Linked DNA regions of Homo sapiens: region 1 is linked to region 2. A link means that fine-mapping ties the variant in region 2 to the expression of a gene that starts in the linked region. Tissue or cell type: anterior cingulate cortex. Region 2 holds a variant in brackets; the other region holds the start of a gene. All regions are shown on one strand. Distances are from middle to middle.

Region 1 (8,107 bases), 450 kb after region 2:
ATACGCAGCCTGTCCTGGGCGCCTCCAGCAGGGTAGACCAGCTGCCCGAACTGGGGTGTCCTTCCAGGAACCCAGGCCAGCGCGCCCCCAGTGCAGGCCTCATCCAGAAGCAGCTGCTCCCACCGCAGCACCAGCTCCTCGTGCAGCAGCTCTGCCAAGTGGCTCGCCACCGACGTGCCCAGGATGGGGCCCCCGAGGATAGAGAAGCGGCGCTGTCGGTTGCTGAGGTAAGCCCAGGGACACCTGGGGACCAGAGAACAGCAGGAGGATCACTCGGTGGCACTCAGGGGAGGACAGGTCCCATCCCAAGGAGGCCAAGTGCAGTGGACACATTTCTTATTTACCTAGAATTTCTTCCTTTGGGAGACCACCCCATCCTGTTCCCATGCCCCGGAAGCAATCATGTGACCCAGACCTGGCCACCAACAATATTCCATTGCCCTTGCCACAGTGACTGGTTCACAGATGGGTGTGAGACCCAAGCCAAGCCAACCAAAGTCCTTTCTGGGACTTCTGGTGCCGCAGGAAGGACACTGGCTCTTTCCTTAGATCATAAGCCATCTTGCTGCTACCTAGAGACAGCCTGTCTAGGGAACTGTGCAGGGAGAGGCAAGTGGACGAGACAGGAAAGAGAGACACAGCTCTATGAACATTATTTGAACACCTGGATGCAGCTGTGCCTGAACTCCACAAATGTAAATCTGCTTTCCCCTGAGATGATTTGGAGTTGGAAGTCTGGTATAAGAAAGTACAGCTCAGACTGCATGGAGCAGGGGGGAAGTGGGTATGACGGAAAGCTGTACGTGCGTCCTAGCACCTCCTACATCCCCACCACCAGCTATGCCTATCCATCTCCTCCTTTCTCATCAGCCACTTGCCCCCAGGGCTGGTGTCCACCGAGGTCCTGGAGCAGCTTCTTCACACTGACCACTGTCTTCTTCTTAGTGCGGCTCTGCATGGAAAGGCCTTGTCAGGCTCACACACCCTCGAGTTCACCCCTGAAGGACAGCAGGGAGTCCCCACCCCTGGAGTCACGGGCCACTCACCCCCGCTCCCTCCAGCTTGAAATTCTCCAGCATCAGCTTCCCCAGGGGCGCAAAGGCTACGTCTCCATGATCCAAGAGGAACCGGCTGATCTGGGGAGAAGAGGAGGCCAGGTCACTAAGCACAGTCTCCAGGCTACGCAGCACTGTCCCCCGTGGGCCCACTCACCTGCTCAGTCACATCCAGCACGACTCGGGGCCGCTTCCGATACCGGCACCCTCCGCGGAAAAGCAGGTCCCGGGCAGTCAGGCCAGGGTCCCAGGGATCTGAGAAGGAGGTTACGGAAAGGGCTGGGGAGGGCACAGGAGTGCGGCCAGATGCCCTGGGCGACTGGAGGTATCCAAGGGTCCTGAGCAGGCACAGGCTTAGCAGGGAGAGGAAGGTCTCAGGAGCGGGAGCAGTGGGAAGAATAGGTGGAGCAGTGTGGAGTGAGCCCGGGGGAATGAGACCCTTACCGATGAGGGGAGGCAGCATGGGGAGAGGCCCAGGGGTTGCCGGCTCCCACAGCAGGTCCTTGGTCACATGCAGTGCCCCATTCTGAAGGGAGGACAATCGCAAGGACAGTATCATGATGAATGCCCTCCCTGGGCCAGGCTGTGCACAGGCATTCATCTCTTATCAACTCATCCAATCCTCACAACAATCCTGCGAAGCTGGGATGACTGGCATTGTCATTTTACTGCTGAAGAAACTGAGGCACACTGCCATTTGCCCCAGAAGACAGAGCCGGTAAAGAGAAGAGCTGGGATGTGAACCCAGGCAGCCTGACCCCAGAGCTCCTGTTTCCGACCTCCACCTGTGCTGGCTCTCAAAGAAGGAAGCCCCTCATGCCACCAGTGGCTGGTCCACATCTCACGTAACCTCACTTCCATTCAGGAGACCTTGCAGTCACTCTGGGAGCCCGGCAGGCGGCTCCACCTCCCTTTGCTGGGCTGGCCTGGGATGTTTCGGCCCAGACATTCAGGGGACAAAAGAGCTAGGAAACCAGACTCCCAGAGGAGCCCCAATTTGACGCCAGACCCTCCCTCGTAAGGATGCCATCCCTGACCCCCGTTCCCCAAGCCTCTGCTCCACTGTCTCTCTTTTTATTTGCTCACCCACTTGCCTCTGCCAGGCTTCATTCCCAGACAGGGTGTTTCCAAGGGGAACTAGGCGGCTGAGGATTCCAAGCAAAGGGCCAGTGTCCCTCCAGAGGCAGCAGAAACCCTGCAGGTCTATCCTCCCCTCTCCCAACCCTACTATGCTGTTTCAGCATCCTTCTGCTTTCATTCCAAGCTCTGATCACATTTTGTAAACACCTTATCCATTGGATAAAGTTCACTTGTTTATTCTCGCTCAACTCAGCTCTCCGTTCCAGGAAGGGAGGGGTCAACCGACTGATTCAGGCAGCATTCTCACGGTCTCATAAGGGACCCGGCATAGTGGGGGCATCCGTCTAGGGATGGCAGGGTAGCCCATGTACCCCAGAGGAGGTGGCAGAGCCTGTGTCTCAGCAGACTCGTGTGAATGCCACCACTCTGTGGCCTTGTCAACTGATGTGAATGTGAGACGGGGGACCCAGGGAAGGGATGTCCCTGGAGCTGCCAGGGCCCCCTGCCTGCATCCTCACCTCTGAGTTCTGGGGCTGGGCCTCTGGCAGAGTCAGTGCGTCTCGCCAGCTGCACATGAAAGAGAGGTCAGGGACGTCGCTCAGACCAAGGGGGCCGGTCAGAAACAATGCAGGGCGGAGGGAGCTGGGGAAGTCCATCCTGGAAACAAGGACCAAGCACCACACTGGCCACCTCGAGAGACTGGAAGCTGGTAAGGGGCGCCAGAGTTCCTGAGGAGTGAAAAGTGCACTACGGGAAGCATATGTTCTTTGAGGAAGCAGATAACAAAAAACAAATATGTAGCCCAAGGCCAAGCAGTAGTGAGAACTGTATTAAAGCCAACCACCCGTCCAGGAGAAGGGGATCTGGTAGTGGGCTGAGGGCGTGGTTTCAGCAAAGCCAGCCAGGAAAAGCCTCGTTGAGAAGGTGGCGTTTGAGCACAGCCTGAACCTAGTGAAGGAGAGAACCATGTACGCAACTGGGAAGAGGGTTCCAGGCCGAACGGTCAACAACTGTGAAAATCCTAGAGCAGTGAAGTGTGTGAGAAAATGAGGCAGCCAGAGTGAGCGAGGTGGAGAGCGGTGGAGATGGAGTCAGAAAGACGGCAAGGGGCAGCCTCTCTCCCGGCTCGTAAGTACCGTCATCATACATTTACAGACTACACCCCCAAGACGCTCAAGTTACTCCACAGCCAGGGACTGCATCTGAGCATCGTCTTCCTACTGTCAAGCACAGTGCCTCCCAGAAAATGCACTAGGGGTTGAAAAAAATAAATTTCTATCACAAGGGGCCGGGCGCGGTGGCTCACGCCGGTAATCCTAGTACTTTGGGAGGCCGAGGCAGGCGGATCACCTGAGGTCGGGAGTTCGAGACTGGCCTGACCAATGTGGAGAAACCCGGTCTCTACTAAAAATACAAAATTAGCCGGGCGTGGTGACGCATGCCTGTAATCCCAGCTACTCGGGAGGCTGAGGCAGGAGAATTCCTTGAAGCCGGGAGGCGGAGGTTGCGGTGAGCTGAGATCGCGCCATTGCACTGTAGCCTGGGCAACAAGAGCGAAACTCCATCTCAAGAAAAAAAAAAATTACATCACAAGGCTTTGGTAAATACAGTCCTCTAGAAGTATGAGCAGCCATAGCATCCCTCCTTTTTAATTAACAAAAATAACAGGGGCAAAAATAACAGCAGCGCTCGCTGACCAAGCGCCAGCATCTATCTGCCAGGCACATGCTAAATGCTGCACTCTTCTATCGCCGTCCCTGTTAACAGAGTTCAGGAAACGAAGGCTCAGCAAGAACTTTAGTCCAACAGCTCTTAGCTGCCACAGCCAAGACTTGATTCCCATCCGATTCAGAGGCAGAGCTCCGAACCAGTGCTCTCGCATGCACCGAAATGCAAACGCTAGCATTAGAGTCTCGCTATACAAAAATCTTTTCCCTTTGGCCGGGTGCGGTGGCTCCCGCCTGCAATCCCAGCACTTTGGGAGGCCAAGGCGGGCGGATCACCTGAGGCCAGAAGTTTGAGACCAGTCCGGCCAATACAGTGAAACCCTGTCAATACTAAAAATACAAAAATTAGCCGGGCGTGGTGGTGTACACCTGTAATCGCAACTACCGAGGAGGCTGGGCACGAAAATCGCTTGAATCTGGGAGGCAGAGGTTGCAGTGAGCCAAGATCATGCCACAGCACTCCAGCCTGGGTGACAGAGCAAGGTTCTATCTCAAAAATAAAATAGAAACAAAAATATTTTCTCTTGGAACCGCATAGCCTGAAACGATCCTAGACAGGCGGAGGGCGCTGGTGGAGAGCACGACCCCACAAAAGCCCTCAGACAAGGCAGCCTCGACTTCCCCGGCCGGCTTCCCGCCCTCGCTGCGGGCTCTCCAGGACCCTTTAGACCTCCAAGGCTACAGAACTCAGTCGGATCCGCAATAACGACAGGCCGGGGACTGCGAAACGTGAGCCTGCCGCGGGGACTGGGGATTGGGGGCGTCCCTCCCCTCCTACATCTGCGGGTCCGCTCCTCGAACACGCGCAGTCCGCGCGGAGGGGGCGCATGCGTGCACTTACGTGACCCCGGCCTCGTCGTGGTCGTCTGGAAAATGGGCCTCGGCGTGATGCTCGCCGGACCCTGGCACCACGAGGGAAATCTCAAGTAGAACCCCAGCTTTGGCACTCGGGACGGGTCAGCCCCGCCGCAGCTACCCACGGTCTTCCGGTTTGGACCGGAAGTGCCTCCTGCGGAGGCAGGAAGTCCCGCCTCCCAGCCAGGCCTCTTAGGGTCCTGGCGCGCCCCCTCCCGGGAGGAGAGGGAACGGGCGTGCAGGCGGCGCGTGGGCAGCGGAAATAAAGCTCCCTTGAGTCCCAATAGTGGAGGCCGGGTGGACTTAGGTTCGAATCCCACATCTACTTCACCAATTTCCTCAGAGTTGTATTAAATTAATCATTTAACGAACTCCCACAGAACACCTACTATAAGCCAGACCTGTATTGGTCAGTAGGTATCCTACTGATTGTCCTTAAATCCCAAGAAGCGGGCTTTACAAATAAGGGTACAAATACCTACTAAGAGTGAAGCTTTTCCAGGGGTGGTCAGGCAGGGAGAGCTTTAGGCAGTGGTCTTCAAACTCTAGCTAGCGTGCGTCAGCAGTAGCACCTGGGGGGCTAGTTAAAACACAGTCTCCAATTCGGTGAGTCTGGGGTGGGACCTGATGATTTGCCTAAGTTCCCAGGTGATGCTGAAACTGCTTATCTGGGGGCCATGCTTTAAGAACCACTGTCCAGTCATGAACCTTACCGTTATCCTAACATAGTACTTCTCAAACTTCAGTGAGCCTTAGAACCACCTGGGGGGCTTGTTACAAGTTTGCTAGGCTCCACCCTACCTCTGCCCCCCGAGTTGCTGATTCAGTAGATCTGGGATGTGGCCCAAGAGTCTGCATTTCTAGCAAGTTCCCAGATGATGCTGGTCCAGGGGCCATACTTTGAGAACCGTTGCTTTAAAGAATCAATTTCCAAATTCTCAGCTGTCATCTATGTCTTTATTTATTTTTTTGAGATGGAGGCTAGAGTGCAGTGGCACGATCTTGGCACACTGCAACCTCCGCCTCTTGGGTTCAAGCAATTCTTCTGCCTCAGCCTCCCGAGTAGCTGGGATTACAGGCCTGCGCCACCATGCCCGGCTAATTTTTGTATTTTTAGTAGAGACGGGGTTTCACCATGTTGGTCAGGCTGAGTCTTGAACTCCTGACCTCAAGTGATCCGCCTGCCTAGGCCTCCCAAATTGCTGGGATTACAGGATGAGCCACCACGCCTGGCCTATATTGTTTTTATCTGGAAGTTTTTACCTGGACTAAAAGTGCCAGCAGGGCTGTGTTCCTTTTGAGAGGCTCTAAGGAAGAGTCCACTATCTTGTCTTTTCTGGCTTCTGGAAGCTGCCTGCATTCCTTGGCTCATGACCCCTTTCCATCTTCAAAGCCAGCAATGCCAGTCGGATTCTTCTCATGAGGCCATCTCTCTGGTTTTTACTCTTCTGTCTCCCTCTTTCCCATGTAAGGACCCATGTGATTATAGTAGGCCCGCCCAGGTAATCCAGGATAATCTCCCTATTTTATTTGTTTTATTTATTTTTTTGAGACAGGGTCTCACTCTGTCGCCCAGGCTAGGGTGCAGTGGTACCATCATGGCTCATTGCAGCCTCAACTTCCCAGGCTGAGATGATTCTCCCACCTCAGTCTCTCGAGTAGCTGGGATTACATGCAAGCACCACCATGCCTGGCTAATTTTCTTTTTTTTTTTTTATTTTGAGACAGAGTTTCACTCTGTCACCCAGGCTGGAGTGCAGTGGCGTGATCTTGGCTCACTACAACCTCCACCTTCCAGGTTCAAACGATTTTCCTGCCTCAGCCTCCCGAGTAGCTGAGACTACAGGTGCCTGCCACCACACCCAGCTAATTTTTGTATTTGTAGTAGGGACGGGGTTTCACCATATTGGCCAGGCTGGTCTTGAACTCCTGACCATGTGATCCACCCGCCTTGGCCTCCCAAAGTGCTGGGATTACAGGCATGAGCCACCACGCCCGGCCTAATTTTTGTAGTTTTTGTAGAGATGGGATTTCATCATGTTGCCCAAGTTGGTCTCTAACTCCTGGGCTCAAGCTACCTTCCCACCTGGGCCTCCCAAAGTGCTGGGGTTACAGGTGAGAGCCCTATTTTAAAGGCAGCTGATTAGCAACCTTACTTCCACCTGCAACCTTAATGCCCCCTTGCCAAATAATATACTCATAGGTTCTGGGGATTAGGCTGTAGACATCTTTGGGGGAACCATTATTTTGCCTACCACACTAATATTCTACATTACCCTTGTAAAACGCCTATCCAGCTTTGGCACTGCGAGGCCAGTTCCATTTCTTCCTTTCCTCCTTTCTCTGAATAAGCCATTATCAATTTGCTTTTGTAACTGACATATACTCAACATGCAGTAAAGCACACGAGTCTTAAATGTACAGCTCATTGAATTTTTATTCATACATAGAAACCCACATGAACACCACCCAGATCAAGACAGAGAACATTTCTATCACTCAAGAAAGTTCCAGCCAGGCACAGTGGCTCATGCCTATAATTCCAGCACTTTGGGAGGCCGAGGTGGGAGGGTTGCTTGAGTCCAGGAGTTCAAGACCAGACTGGTCAACAGAGCAAAACCCCCATCTCTACAAAATTTTTTTCTAAAAAGAAAATTCCCTGGTGCCACTTCCCAGTCAATACTTCCTTCAAGAAGGAACCACTATTTGGACTCTTATCACCACAGATTAGTTTTGCCAGTTCAAGAACTTTACATAAGTGGAATCATGGAGAGGATGTGTCTGGCTTCTTCCACGCCATGTGCCTAATAGATTCACCTGTGTTGTGTACGCAGCTGTTGTTTCCTTTTTAAATTAGTGAGTCGTGTTCCATTGTATGAATATACCATTGATTTGTTCACGCAACCTCCTGTTGGTGAGCGTTTGGGGCGTTACTGGGTTTGATGACTTTGTGGAAGTCTCTCTGTGGATATGTGCAGCCCTCAGTCCATTTCTGGACATCTGCTGTGCTGTCCCTTCACTCTCCTGGGCCTCATCCCACTCTCTGGGCTGCACACACACACAAAATGGAATTGTTCTTCCTGATGTCAATTCTTGACATGTTGGGGAGGCTGACTACCCAGCCCACCACACCTGCTTCTTCCAAGTCAAAGGTTCTGGGAGGACTCCACCACCTGGTCCTCATATGCCCCAGCATCCTCACTGTCACAATCCTGGAGAGAGCTGCCAGGCCCAGCTTCAGCAGCAGCAGCAGCAAGCACTGTGACAAATCTTACAGACACTGGTCATGCTTTCCCAAGTTAGTGGCTACTGTAAGACTCCGTTAAACTTGCAGCCTCCTTCAAGCAAATACGCGTTGCATCACAGTAAGCCTTGTGTAAATTGTCTTCA
Region 2 (8,107 bases):
CATGGGCGCTATGGTTGGACAACTCTATCACTTACTAGCTGTGTGTCCTGGACCCAGCTACTTAGTCCCTCACCACCTCTGTTTCTTCATCTATATAATGGGTCAGTAATCCCACCCACATGAAGTTATTGTTAGACTTAAATAAGCTGACCCATGTAAAGTGCTTGGAAATTCCCTGGCACAAAGCAAGTGCTCAATAAATATTATCTGTGACTCTATTATTATCATCATCATGATCATAATTATTACCGCAACTGCCACTAGCATTCCCTTCCAAGGTATTTTCTCAGCCAGCAGCAGCAAATCTGTTTGGGATTGTATGTCAAGCCCTGTGAAAAAGAAGGGTTTGGCACACAGGGCTTCATACAAAGAGGGGTTTTGAAGCTGACCTGGCCATTGCCAAGTCATTACCGTGCTTGTGAGAAGGGGGCAGCGAGCCTGCCACATGTTTGCATGTGGACCCTCACGGTGCTATACACATACCTACCTACTATAAAGATTTACTTCGTATGTGTTGTCATCTTGTCATGCTGTGTTCATCATGGCTTTTAATGTCTACGTAGCATTCCATTATCACTTTTGATCAACAGTTCCCTGATTGATTTTTTATTTTTCTATAGTAAACATTGAAGGAGAAAATATAATTGTCGCTAAATATTTCAGCCAAATAAGTCTGAGCTATGCATTATTCTAAGGCCCTCTCTCAGATCTTCACAATGCAAATCTGAGTATTAAAGGCTCTGAGAATTCTTGCGCAAAGGGGGACCTCATTTGATGTTATTAACCTGGCATTCCCCAGTTTTGGAATGTGCTCCCTATAGCTATTTCTTTAAGCTAAATAATTAGAGGAAGAATTTCTGGGTCAAAGAATATGTACAGTTCCAAGAGATTTTCATTTGTTTCCCTCTAGAATGTTGTTTTAGGAACTGACAAACTTGGAGATACCTCCTTCTGGGCTAAACTGTGACTTTTTAAAATCACAATTCGATGAAAAGTTCAACACACTAAAATATACGGTGGTATTCTTTTAAAAAATTCATACAATTGAACTGGGTACAAAGGATCACCTGGGTTTTTTGTTTGTTTGTTTTTGTTTTGTTTTCGTTTTTTGGTTTGTGGTTTTTTTGAGCTTTTAGATTCAGGGGGTCCATGGGCAGGTTTATTACCTGGGTCTATTGCGTGTTGCTGAAGTTTGGGGTATGAGTGATCCCATCACCCAGACAGTGTGCATAGTACCCGATAGTTTTCAACCCTTACACCCCTTCCATGCTCCCCCTTCTAGTAGTCCCCAATGTCTATTGCTCCCATCTTTGTGTCTGTGTGTACTCAATGTTTAGCTCCCACTTAGAACTGAGAACATGCAGTATTTGGTTTTCTGTCCCTGTGCTAATTCGCTTAGGTTAATGGCCTCCAGCTGCATCCATGTTGCTGCAAAGAACACAATTTCATCCTTTTTCACAGCTGCATAGTATTCCATGGTATACACGCACTGCATTTTCTTTATCCATTCCACCATTGATGAGCACCTGGATTGGTTCCTTGTGCTTGCCATTGTGCATTGTGCTGTGATAAACATACAAGTGCATGTGTCTTTTTGGCAAAACAATTTATCTTCTTTTGGATAAACACCCAGTAGTAGGATTGCTGAGTCAAATGGTAGTTCTGTTCTAAGTTCTTTGAGAAATCTCCAAACTGCTTTGGACAGGGGCTGAACTGATTTACATTCGCACCAACAGTGTATAAGAGTTCCCTTTTCTCTGTAACCTGGGCAGCATCTGTCATTTTTTGACTTTTTAATAATAGCTATTCTGACTGGTGTGAGATGGTATCTCATTGTGGTTTTGATTTGCATTTCTCTGAGGATTAGTGACGTGGAGCATTTCTTCATATGTTTGTTGACCGCACGTATGTGTTCTTTTGCAAAGTGTCTGTTCATGTCTTTGACCATTTTGTAATGGGGTAGTTGTTTGCTTGTTGAGTTGTTAAAGTTACTTATAGATTCTGGATATTAGACCTTTGTTGGAAGCATAATTTGTGAATATTTCTTTCCATTCTATAGGTTGTCTGTTTATTCTGTTGATAGTTTCTTTGCCAATTTTTGTTTTTGGTGCAATTGCTTTTGGGGACTTTGTCATAAATTCTTTGCCAAGGTCAATGTGCAGAATGCTATTTCCTAGGTTTTTTCCAGCTGGATTCTTTTCTCGTCTTCTGGCAAGTCAGTTTAGAAGAGGTTGATTTATTCAGAAAGTATCCATTTTCTTTTTCTAGACTTCAGACAGGAAAATGTAAAATGAGCAAAATTCTCGTGTATAAACTAGCTCAAAGGTTTGTGGAAGATTTAAATGCTGCATGACAGGTAGCAGGTAGTCGATAAATGCCAGTTGTGAATATTGCTTTTCAGATTAAATAACAAGGCTGAAAGTAAATGTTTTGGACAGGCTAGCTATTCTTCATACATCCAACCTAAAGGTAATCATCCTGGTTTATTTATTTATTCAAAAAATATTGAAAAATTCACACTGTGAGCCGGGTCCTAACTAGCCCTGAGGATAGCAGTGAACAAGACAGTGTGGAGTTTCCATTCTAGTGGGAAGACCGGCAATGAACAAGCCAATGAATGTCTGATCACACAACCGGTGTGATTACAGCTTACAGCTCTTTCCCATGGGAGAGTCAACAGCTTAATGGGATGGAGAGTAACTGGAGAAGGCCACCTTAGATGGGCTGGTTAGGAGGGAGATGATGTGTGATCTGAAGAGTGATAATGAACCAGCCAAGGGGAGAGGTGAGGGGGAGAAACCAACAGCTAATGCAAAGGCTGGGACGATGGGAGAGCCTGGCTAGCTTTGGACTGGGGAACAGGGTGAGTTGATGGTGGGAGGTGAGCAGTGATCAGTCCCCAAAGCCACAAAGGTTTTGAAGCCTGAAAGGGACATGACGTACATTTTTTAAATCTCACTCTCCTGTTCTGTGAGCAACAGAATAGAGGACCCGGAAACTGTAGTAGGGTTCTGTTTCTACACTAGTGCTAATGTAGAACCTCCTACATCCAGAAAGATGATAGCAGAGCTGAGCCACATTCTTCCTGGCAACTGATGTTCCCACACGTAGAAACAGCTGGCATCCTCATACAGAGGGAGGCTTGCAGGCCCAGGATACATCTCATCCCCCTTGCTAATCTCAGTACTTGACACCCCTGACCTCACCAGGGGCACCAAACCCAACTGCTTCCTGCAGGGATTCAGCTGCACTTGTCATCACAGAGCCTTGAAATCCCTGGGGATATCAACTCCTTGGAATTCCAGGCTGCTCTTCCACTTGCTTCTGACACATTGACTTTTCTGCCCATTCACTCACCCATCTTTAACCAAGGCCTGTATGGCCAGACATGAGGCCACTCACTGCCTACATGAAGAGGGAAAGACAAAGTGTATCCCTGGGAGCTCGCTACCTTGTGTGAAAATTACAACATCAGATAGTAAATGCCTTGGTGAAGATACGCATCCCAAGGGCAGGAAGCTCCCCACCTTGATCACTGCAAACTCCCCAGTCCCTAACAGAATACTGGGAAGATAGAAGGTGGTCAAAGCGTATGTATGGAATGAACACTGGAAATCAGTACACAGGGCTGGGAATGTGTGATTCTGAGCACTCAGTGATGGAAATAACCCTCCAGCTCCTTCACAGAACAGCCAGCAGCATCACCTGTTTTGGTGATGGTGCCTCCGGATGATGATCCGTGAGCGCACACTGGACTCGTGCTCCTGGGTGAGCTCTCTCCTTGTGAAACCCAGATGCTTCTGTCTCCCAGGGACCCTGCAGCCCTCCCGGTAACCTGGCCTCCATCACGAATGCAGTCTCTATAGACGGTTGTCTATTAGGATGCCACTGGAGAGGGAGGTCCCGTCATCACCTAAGCTAAGCACAGCTGCCTCTAAGTACCTCCTTGCTTGGCAGCCGGCCAGACCACATTCACTGAGCTTCAAGTCATAATG[C/T]GAGGCTCAGCCATCTATCTCACTGTGGTCCCCGCTGCAGCTGGCTTCATTTATTGACTTCTTGAAAGTGGCAATATCCATGCTCAGCTTGGTCTGAGCTGGACTCAGAGACCCAGGTGCCAGAGCAAAGGCCATGGTGTGTCGGTTAATCACCCAATAAAAATAAACTCTGAGAACAAATACAGAGGGGTGATTAACTTTCCCATTCTGGTCTTCTGACATCCCAGTTTGCTCTCCCAGTGAGCGTGTTTCTTTGAGATAAACCACCCTGGGAAACTGATCACCTGTCCAGACACCACCATGCCTTGGCGTAAGTGGACAAAAGTGGAACGTGACCTGCAAGCAGCGCAGCCTGAGACTTAGGCAGAGAGCCCCCTGCCCCAGGTTCCATGCTGCTGAGGGCCTTATCAGAAACTCTGAAGCAGAGCACCAGACTATTTTATTCTGCTTTTTGCTCTTGTAATAAAGTGTTATTAGTGTTTAGTCACCAGATTAAACCCCAAAGCCTTACCTCCCCTCCTGTGACCATCCATGTACTCCAAATCATGAACCAAAAAACAGGGACCACCAACAGCCCTTACCAAAAGAAGACTGGAAGCACAAAAAAGCAACTTACCATGAATCAATTTAAAGTGAAGACCAAAGTGTGACTCAAAACTGAAAAAATATATGTATTTGGTTAAGATGTAATTGTTACCGAAGCACCAGGGGTTTGGTCTGGGTCCTGCTGTTCACTGCACAGAAAGCCAATCACTGAGACAAGACAAAAGCCAGGGAAGAAGGCTTTAATCGGGTGCTGCTGCAGCCAAGGAAATGGGAGGTCAGTCTCAAATCCATCTCTGAAATGAGGGGTTGATGCACCAGAGAGGAAATGTAACCGTGTTTGGGAAAACATGGATGAAATTGGAAATCATCATTCTCAGTAAACTATCGCAAGGACAAAAAACCAAACACCGCATGTTCTCACTCATAGATGGGAATTGAACAATGAGAACACATGGACACAGGAAGGGGAACATCACACTCTGGGGACTGTTGTGGGGTGGGGGAAGGGGGGAGGGATAGCATTAGGAGATATACCTAATGCTAAATGACGAGTTAATGGGTGCAGCACACCAGCATGGCACATGTATACATATGTAACTAACCTGCACATTGTGCACATGTACCTTAAAACTTAAAGTATAATAATAATAATAATAATAATAATAAAAACAGGGATTAAAGCGGGGCAAGGAAGAGAAGTTGGTCAGTAGGAAGCAGGTGGTCCTTTAGGCAATCCTGATGGATGAGGGGTCTGGCTCCTCATTATCCAGAGGCAGTGGTCTGGTAAGTTTCAGCTCCTTGATTTTATCTGGGAGACCTGATGGTTGGCTTCTTGAGAAAGGAACTCAGATAAGACAATTGTAACTTTCTCAAGTTTTAAAGTCTGGAAGGAACAATTTCTGTGGTTATTCAAAAAAAAAAAAACATAAGCGTCAGTTCTGTGGGACAATTTGATCACTTTATTTTGGAGAAAAAAATGATGAATAGAAGTTTGTTTATAAGTTTAACCCCAATAATAGGCTAGTCTCACAGTGAACACAGATGAACCAAGAATTGCTTTGCTTTTGACATAATTTTTACAACATCCCACGGCAGTACATGCCAAACTTCACCTTGTGCTCAGCTTATGCCCTGCATTTATAAAGAGATTGTCTTTCCTAACCATTCGAGGGCTTTGTCCATTTCCCAAAGGACCTCTCCCCAGTCCTTTGCCAGTCAAATCACTCTTTCGAAGCAGTTGTAAATCCACTGTCCTTTCTCTTCTTCAATCATTGATTCCCTTCTCTCCATTGCGTTTTCACTTGTCATGGATTTACTTATGATTCCTTTTTTTCTTCTTGTATTGCTTTACTTGTAATTAGCAAATAATAATTGTATATATTTATGAGGCATAATGTGATGGTTTGGTCTTTGTATACATAGAAACTTTGATCAACATCTCCCCCTTCTTCAGCCCTCTCCCTGCTGCCATGAATTTGACTCTTTTAGATTCCACAGATACATGAAATAATAAAGTATGTGTCTTTCTGGGCTTGGCTTATTTCACTTAGCGTAATTCTTATACTCTGAGTATCCTCGTAGAACCCTACATCTTTTGTGAGATTGACAGTCATACTTTGTGCTGGACTGGTGCATCTTTGGGATGGTTTTGTCACTGGGCGATAACTCATGAGGTCTGCTGACCAGGTAGATACCAGGAGTAAGCAGGATATTTGGCTGCAAGAGAGAATTATAGGCCTGGTCGGGAGTTCATTCAGGATGTTGTAAATGGAATACTGGGGTGATGAGCAGTCCTTGTGGGTCTTGTTCATATTTGTATATATTCAGGCCTAGGAATGCAGGGAAAAAAGGGATAAAACACACTGAATGAAAAGAGTGTGAACAAATGGATGAAGAGCCTCACACCAAGTAAAGCTTACGTTGCTACCAACTGGTACCAAACTCCAAGTCGTCCTGTTCTTTTCCAAGCGCCATTTCTGCTGCTTAGAAAAAGCCACCCAATCTGGATACATGGATGTAGCAAATTTAACCTTAGACCTAGATTACCTATAGGATCAGACTTGATCAGTCATTAATAATGATAATGAAAATTAATCATGAAAGCTATCTTGTGGTTGCACCTTAAAGCATCTGTGTAATGCTTTTACCCATACTAAGAGTGTTCAATCCCTGTTTTCACCTAGGATTGATAAGTGTATTTCTGGATTTCAGAAATCGGATAGCTTCTGAAGTCTCAGCCTGTTAATATGGTAACTAAATATGTTAAGGTCCTAGTCTCTCAATGTTTAATTACTGTTTAATTTTTTATTTCCTAATTTACTCAATGTGTATGATATTGTTAAATTTGTGGCTTTATACCCTGAATCTCTTTGTCTGTATTTCTCTGTATTGCTTGGCAGTCAATTTGGTCAAAAGCAACAACGAAATGACCCTTACGAAGTGTCAAATGTCCCTTTATATGAGATATAAATGTCTTTGCAAAGACACTTATAAAGTTGTGAAGACGTTGTTTCCTTACTCTAATAGCTGCTGTATTCACGTAGGTTTCAAAAATGGGGTGGGGGAGGGCAGTGGCAGTGAGCGCCTAGCGGAAACTATGTCAATCACCCCTGGAAATAAATCTGCAAAATGGACTAGCAAGCCCTGACTAGGAAGAGCCCGGCCACAGCAAAATCTTATTGCAGGCACAAAAAGGTCCTATTGCAGCAGTTGGGAGACCTTTGGTAAATTCTAACAAAGAATTAATGGCCTCGAACAAGACGCCCGGTATGACCTTTGCCAGAAGAAACTAGGAGCAGACTTGCTTGCCTGGAACAGGTGGTGAGGAGGTTTTCAGAGAAGATGTGTGCAGTCCCTGGCAAGTAGCTGGTGCCCAGGAAATGTCAGTTCCATTGTTTGCCAGGGAAGGCTCGGTGCACGTGGGGCTCACACACAAAGGAAGAGGTTAGAGAGTCCGCAGAAAAGGGTGGGAGCTCAAAACAGTGGTTCTTAGGCGTTTGTCTGCAGGCACGCTGGTAATTCATGCTGACCATGCCCACAATCAGTGGCACCTAGCTGTGGCCCCACCCCTTTCCTGCCCACTATTGAAAGTGACTACATGGCAAAGAGCGCCTATTTCCTAGACTAAATCATTCTCAGACTTAAGTTATTAGTGAGCGCTGTTAGACTCAAGTTCCTTGATATCTACATCACAACTGAGTAGTTTATCTCAGTGGTAAGTCTCGAAGTTTGACTTCGAAGTTACTAAGAGCCTTCCAATAAAAGAACAGTTTAAGCCAATATTGTTTCACCATTGATAGTGATGAAGATATTAAATTCACACACATGTGCTGTGTGATTTTAAACCTTTCTCAAATGTGTATGATTTTTATAAGCAGAAATATAATTTTAAGAAAGCTTTATATCTATGTAATAGGGTTCTTTTTTTTTTGGGAAATATTGCCATCCTGTAAATTCCAGTCCTATGTTCCTGAGTTATTCCCCACTAAGGAAAGCCCAGCTGTGGGACATAGACCTGGTTTCCACCTCAGAGTTTAAATCATTATTCTCAGAATGGTGGTTCTCAA

The links. PIP is the estimated chance that this variant, and not a neighbour inherited with it, causes the effect.
Region 1: TAF1C starts here. The variant in region 2 is fine-mapped to the expression of TAF1C in anterior cingulate cortex (GTEx, PIP 0.98).

What each region holds. Positions count from the first base shown.
Region 1 is chr16:84,182,198-84,190,304 of GRCh38, forward strand. TAF1C (TATA-box binding protein associated factor, RNA polymerase I subunit C) reads right to left here and starts at 4,860. Exons shown (of 15, transcript NM_001243156.2): 1 at 4,704-4,860; 2 at 2,654-2,863; 3 at 1,500-1,581; 4 at 1,213-1,310; 5 at 1,047-1,136; 6 at 879-952; 7 at 5-243. The coding sequence starts at 2,791. RefSeq lists an enhancer at 4,700-5,200 and a silencer at 4,846-5,055.
Region 2 is chr16:83,729,549-83,737,655 of GRCh38, forward strand. The region is part of intron 10 of CDH13 (cadherin 13); the gene reads left to right. The region is part of intron 1 of CEDORA (CDH13 antisense oligodendrocyte and neuron associated lncRNA); the gene reads right to left. Among named protein-coding and RNA genes, the nearest start is that of CEDORA, 39 kb to the right of the region's middle. The variant C/T (reference allele first, on the strand shown) is at 3,996.